Regions from separate parts of the Homo sapiens genome. Here region 1 is linked to region 2. Evidence: fine-mapped expression QTL. A gene starts in region 2. The other region holds a variant in brackets. All regions are shown on one strand. Distances are from middle to middle.

Evidence for each region. PIP is the estimated chance that this variant, and not a neighbour inherited with it, causes the effect. A credible set is the group of variants that fine-mapping cannot tell apart.
Region 1: its variant is the best candidate, but not a certain one, in a credible set for the expression of GIGYF1 in lung (TOPMed, PIP 0.72).

What each region holds. Positions count from the first base shown.
Region 1 is chr7:100,728,332-100,731,231 of GRCh38, forward strand. No RefSeq gene overlaps it. Among named protein-coding and RNA genes, the nearest start is that of ZAN, 3.8 kb to the right of the region's middle. The variant G/C (reference allele first, on the strand shown) is at 1,135.
Region 2 is chr7:100,693,053-100,695,952 of GRCh38, forward strand. It overlaps GIGYF1 (GRB10 interacting GYF protein 1), which reads right to left and starts at 1,198. Exons shown (of 27, transcript NM_001375765.1): 1 at 1,058-1,198. RefSeq lists a cis regulatory region at 272-1,765, silencers at 627-746, 917-1,016, 1,457-1,616 and an enhancer at 2,304-2,900.

The sequences.
Region 1 (2,900 bases), 35 kb after region 2:
CCCTTTTCTCTCTGACCCAGGATCACCAGGGAGAGGAAAGAGAAGAGATGGAGTGAATGAGACAGCTGTGGTCAGCAAGGCGTGTCCATCTTCCACGACCGACTCCTTCCCATTCAATCCCCTGCCTTGGGATCCTGCTTCTTCCCTGCATAGGCAGAAAGTACCTACCAACTTCCCTTCTTCCCAACTCCCTGCTCTGAGTACTGCGCTAGGAGCCAACTCAGCCACCTCCTGCAGCCCCAGCTCTCCATCTTAACTGCAGCCTCTCGCTCTTGGGTACTCACTGACTCAAATCCTCCCTCTGGGCCCAAGCATCAGGCTGAACAAAGACCTGTCCCTAGTTCACAGGTCACCTAGGATTCTTTTTTTTTTTCTTTGAGATGGGGTTTCGCTCTTGTTGCCCAGGCTGGAGTGCAATGGCGCGATCTCAGCTCACTGCAAACTTTGCCTCCCGGGTTCAAATGATTCTCCTGCCTCAGCCTCCTGAGTAGCTGGGATTACAGGCATGTGCCACCACACCTGGTTAATTTTGTATTTTTAGTACAGACAGGGTTTCTCCGTGTTGGTCAGGCTGGTCTCGAACCCCGACCTCAGGTGATCCACCTGCCTCAACCTCCCAAAGTGCTGGGATTACAGGCGTGAGCCACTGTGCCTGGCCAGTCACCTAGGGTTCTGCTGGAACTACTGAACTGTAGTTCAGTAGGTGATCTTACCACAGTAGGGTTTGTTGCTGGAGTTGCATTAGCTAAACAGGGTCTTTTAGACACTGGAATCTAAGCTGAAGGCTAATAATATTATTTGAAGATGGTGAAAGTTAATTCTACTAAAATTCCATCATAAAACTGTGGCATTGTGAAGGATTGTTGGCAACAAATAAATAGACGATAGTATAGTTTCTCAATTTATGGGAGTCATGGCCAAATGTCTCTAAACTCCCTTCTTTATTTAAGAAAATTGATTATTAAAAATGGCCAGTGGTTCACGCCTGTAATCCCAACACTTTGGGGGGCCAAGGTGGGCGGATCACCTGAGGTCAGGAGTTCGAGACCAGCCTGACCAACATGGTGAAATCCCGTCTCTACTAAAAATAAAAAATTAGCTGGGTGTGGTGGTGCATGCCTGTAATCCCAGCTA[G/C]TTGGAAGGTTGAGGCAGGAGAATTGCTTGAACCTGGGAGGCGGAGGTTGCAGTGAGCCAAGATCGTACCATTGCACTCCAGCCTGGGCAACAAGGGCAAAACAAGATAAAAAAAAAATTACGTGACCGGGCGCGGTGATGTACACTTGTAATACCAGCACTGTGGGAGGCCAAGGTGAGAGGATCACTTGAGGCTGGTAGTTTGAGACCAGCCTAGTCAACATAGTGAGATCCCTGTTTCTATAAAAAATTTGCTGGGCTACTAAAAAATAGACTGTAGTTCCAACTACTTGGGAGGCTGAGGTTGTAGTGAGCTATGATTGAGCCACTGAACTCTAACCTGGGTGATAGAGCAAGACACTGTCTCAAAAAAAAAAGTGACTGCCACACATAAATTTCTTTCTTTTATTATTATTATTATTATTATTTTTTGAGACAGAGTCTCACTCTGTCACCCAGGCTGGAGTGCAGTGGTGCGATCTCGGCTCACTGCAACCTACCCCTCCTGGGTTCAAGAGATTCTCCTGCCTCAGCCTCCTGAGTAGCTGGGACTACAGGTGCGCACCACCATGCCCAGCTAATTTTGTATTTTTAGTACATACGGGGTTTCACCATGTTGGCCAGGCTGATCTTGAACTCCTGGCCTCAGGTGATCTGCCCACCTTGGCCTCCCAAAGTGTTGGGATTATAGGTGTGAGCCACTGCACCCAGCCAACATCATAGATTTCTGGCTTTAAAAAAATCTTGGCTGTACTGATTGAGCCTCCTCCCCAATCTTACAGAGGAAGGAACTAAGACACAGAGAGGGTGAGAAAAGTTCCCAAAGACACACAGCAAATTTAGGACTGGGCTCCAGTTCTCTCAAGGGCTTTTCCACAGCCCAAGGTCTCTCACACCTGTTCCCACAGCTGCCAGTCTTGTCAAGGTTGCCAGTCTCTGGGGCGTTGCTGGTTCCTGGCTCCCTAAAATACAGGGCCCAAGGGTCCTCCCCCACTTTCCTGTCCTGCCGTGAGCCCCCCACCCCCACTTCCAGACGGATTGGGAGCTGTGACCCCCAGCTCTGTGGTCCCAAAGGGAGGTCAGCTAAAGCAGCTACCAGGGGACTTATTGCCCAACAGGGAGTGGCTATGATCAATGTCTTCTGCTCCTCTTCCCTGGGTTAACCATTTCCTGGCCCTGGCCCCTCTGTTAATTCCTCTGCTAACCTGGTATGGAGGAAGGGTGGACAAGGGCTTGGGATGGACACCATTGATATCCCCAGGTCTGACATAAACAGGCAGGGGGGTGCTCTCAGTCCTCAGATGTGATCCCTGCCTGAGCTCTGTTGGCATTCCATGGCGAGGCTCTTCAGCCTCATTTGGGCAGAAGCGGTCCTGGGGATTGCAAAAGGGCTTTCTTTTTCTTTTATTTATTTCTTTTTAGAAACAGAGTCTCCTTGTGTTGCCCAGGCTGGAGTGCAATGGTACAATCATAGCTCACTGCAGCCTTGAACTCCTGGGCTCAGGCGACCCTCCCGCCTCAGCCTTCTTTGTAACTGGAACTACAGGTGTGCACCACCATGCTTAGATAATTTTTGTATTTTTTGTGTAGAGGGTGGGTTCTCGCTATGTTGCCCAAGCTGGTCTCGAACTCCTGGGCTCAAGCAATCCTCCTACCTTGGCCTCCCAAAGTTCTGGGATTACAGGCACAAGCCACCGCGCCCGGCCATTTCTTTTCTTTTCTTTTCTTTTCTTTTCTTTTCTTTTCTTTTCTTTTCTTTTTGAGAC
Region 2 (2,900 bases):
AGTGCACAAGAGGGTGGGAAAGCTGACGATCTTCCAGAACGACACTTTGAGAGGCAGGAGGGAAGTAAGGCTTGGGTGGCTGGAAAAAAAAAATCCAATCCAGCTAACAAGTCTTTATGTAGCATCTCCTAGTTCCTAGCACTAGGATGCAACAGACCTGGAGTCTGACCGGGAATGCGAGTAATGACTGTATAACAGAGAAGAGAGACGAGGGGCTTTTAAAAAGTTACTCGGAAATTTTTTTGTTTTTTTTTTTTTTTAAGGCAAAGTGTGAGAGCTGTGGCCAGGGAGCTGCTGCACGGAGGGGCATGAGCTGAGAAGGGCCTGGCCTGGGACGGGGAGGACAAGCAGTCTCTGCTAAGGAAGGTATTTCCCGCGGCCGAGCAACTGGGAAGAAGGAGACCCCAATGACCCAGCACTAAGATCGCCGGAGCGAAAGGAAACAGAGGTGAGGAGGACCCAGGCGAGGTGCCTGGGTGGAGGGCAAGGCTTCCATGTTGGCCAAAGTCGTGGAACGCTTGGACCTGGGGAACCGCAAGGCCCAGCTCGTTCCGAGGGGAACCCAAAGGCGCGCTGGGGAGAACTCCGGGAAGCGCGGGGCCCGGCCACCCTAGGACGCTAGGGTCGGGGGCCCCCAGGCGGCCCAGGGCAGGGCTTGGCAGGGGCCCGGGGGCGACCGTTAGGAGCGCGGGGGTGGAAGGCAGCGCGCCGGCCCGGGAGGACGGCGTGCCCTTCAGGGAGGGGCGCCAGGTGCGAGGGGGGCGAGCGGTCGCCCCCTAAGCCGGGCGCCGGCCTCCCGGGGCCTCCCCGAGGCTGGCCGGCTCTGGGGGAGGGTCCCGGCGGCGGGGATGGGCCGGAGCGGGCGGGAGAGCGGGAGGACGCACCGGGCTGCGGCGGCCTCGGGGAGGAGACGGGGGAGGGTCCTCGCTGGCGGCCCGCGCGCTGGCTCCGGCGCTTCTCTAGCTCGCGGGCTCGGCGCGGCCGCCGCGGCGTCGGGGGCGGGCCTGCCCCGGGGCTGGGCTGCGGGCCGGGGGCCGCGGGGCCACTGGGCGCTTACCGCGGGCGGCGCGAGGGTCCGGTCCCGGGGCGTGGGCGGCGCGCGGCGGGCGGGGGCCGGGGACGGCGACGGCGGCTAGCAGCGGGGGAGGGGGCGCTGGCGCTCCCGCGGCGGCCGCTCCTCTGTGTTTGTGTTTGTAGCAAGATGGCTGCCCGCCTCGCACCACGTGACGCGGACGCGGGGCCGCGGGGCCGCCCCTTCCACCGCCGCCGCCGCCGCCGCCGCCGCCGCCGCCGCCGCCGCCGCCGCCGCCGCCGCCGCCGCCGCCGCCGCCTCCCTCCGCGGCTCCGGCCCGCGCCACCTCTCCTCGTGCGCTGCTCGCGTGCCGCGCGCGCCACTGCCCGGACGCCCGTCGCCCCCGACAGCCCCCCCCCTCCCCGCCCCGACACGTGACCTGGGCGCCCGGCTGGTCACGTGACGGGGGCCCCCAGCTGCGGGCGGGATCGGCCCCAGAGCGGCCTCCTCTCCCCCACCTCCCCCGGCCCCGCGACGCGCGACCTCTGGGACCGAGGCCGCGGCCTCCCTGGCGGTCCGGTTTCCTCCAGGAAGCCCGCCTGGATGACAGGAGACAATAAAATCCAGAACCCTTCATCAGGCGTCCTGGGATGTGTGAAATAAGTGGCTCAGGCAAATAAGTTGACTCTCAGGAGCCTCTTTATTTTTTTAATTATTTATTTAATTATTGAGACAGAGTGTTGCTCTGTCCCCCAGGTTGCAGTCCAGTGGCGCGATCTCGGCTCACTGCAGCCTCCGCCTCCCGGATTCAAGTGATTCTCATGCCTTGGCCTCCCGAGTAGCTGAGATTACAAGCACACACCACCACGTTTGGCTTATTTTTGTTGGCCAGGCTGGTCTAGAACTCCTGACCACTCAAGTGATCCGCCTGTCTCGCCCTCCCAAAGTGCTGGGATTACAGGCGTGAGCCACCGCGCCCGGCCCCTATTTATTTATTTTTTTGAAGCAGGGTCTCACTCTGTTGCCCCAGCTGCAGTGTACTAGCCCGATCTCGGCTTACGGCAGCCTCCAACTCCCGTGTCTCAAGCGATCCTCCCATCTCAGCCTCCTGAATTGTTGGGACTATAGGTGTGCACCATCACACCCAGATAACTTTTTTATTCTCTGTAAAGACTGGGCGGGTGGCGTGTCTCATAACATTGCCCAGGCTGGTCTTGAACTCCTGGTCTCAAGGGATCCTCCTGCCACAGCCTCTTGAGTAGCTGGGACTACAGCTGTGTGCCACCACACCCAACTAATTTTTTTAATTTATTGTATTTGTTGTTTGTTTGTTTTCCAAGACAGAGTCTTGCTCTGTCGCCCAGGCTGGAGTGCAGTGGCGCGATCACGGTTAACTGCATCCTGCGCCTCCTGGGCTCAAGCAATCCTCCTGCCTCAAGCACCCTGAGTAGCTAGGACTACCAGGGCACACCACCACGCCCAGCTTTTTTTTTTTTTTTTTTTTTTTTTTTGTAGAGACAGGGTTTCCCCCATGTTGCCCAGGCTGGTCTTGAACTCCTGGACCCAAATGATCCTCCTTCCAAAGTGCCGGGAACTCCTGGACCCAAATGGATCCTCCTTCCAAGGTGCCGGGATGACAGGCATGAGCCGCCACGCCTGGCCTCTCAAAAGCCTCCGTTTCTCTTACAGAAGGATGTTAACACTGCTCTGCACCCAACCCCCGACCCCCAACTCCACACTCTTCCTTGAGTGCTGTAAGAATTAAAATAAGTGAATGTGAAAGGCTTTGACAAGAGAGAAACTGCTATGCAAATGTGAGGTGACTGAAACCCCCTTTGTTTAAAAAAAGGACTTTTCAAGAATGACTCGCTGAACTTTTTCAAGGCTC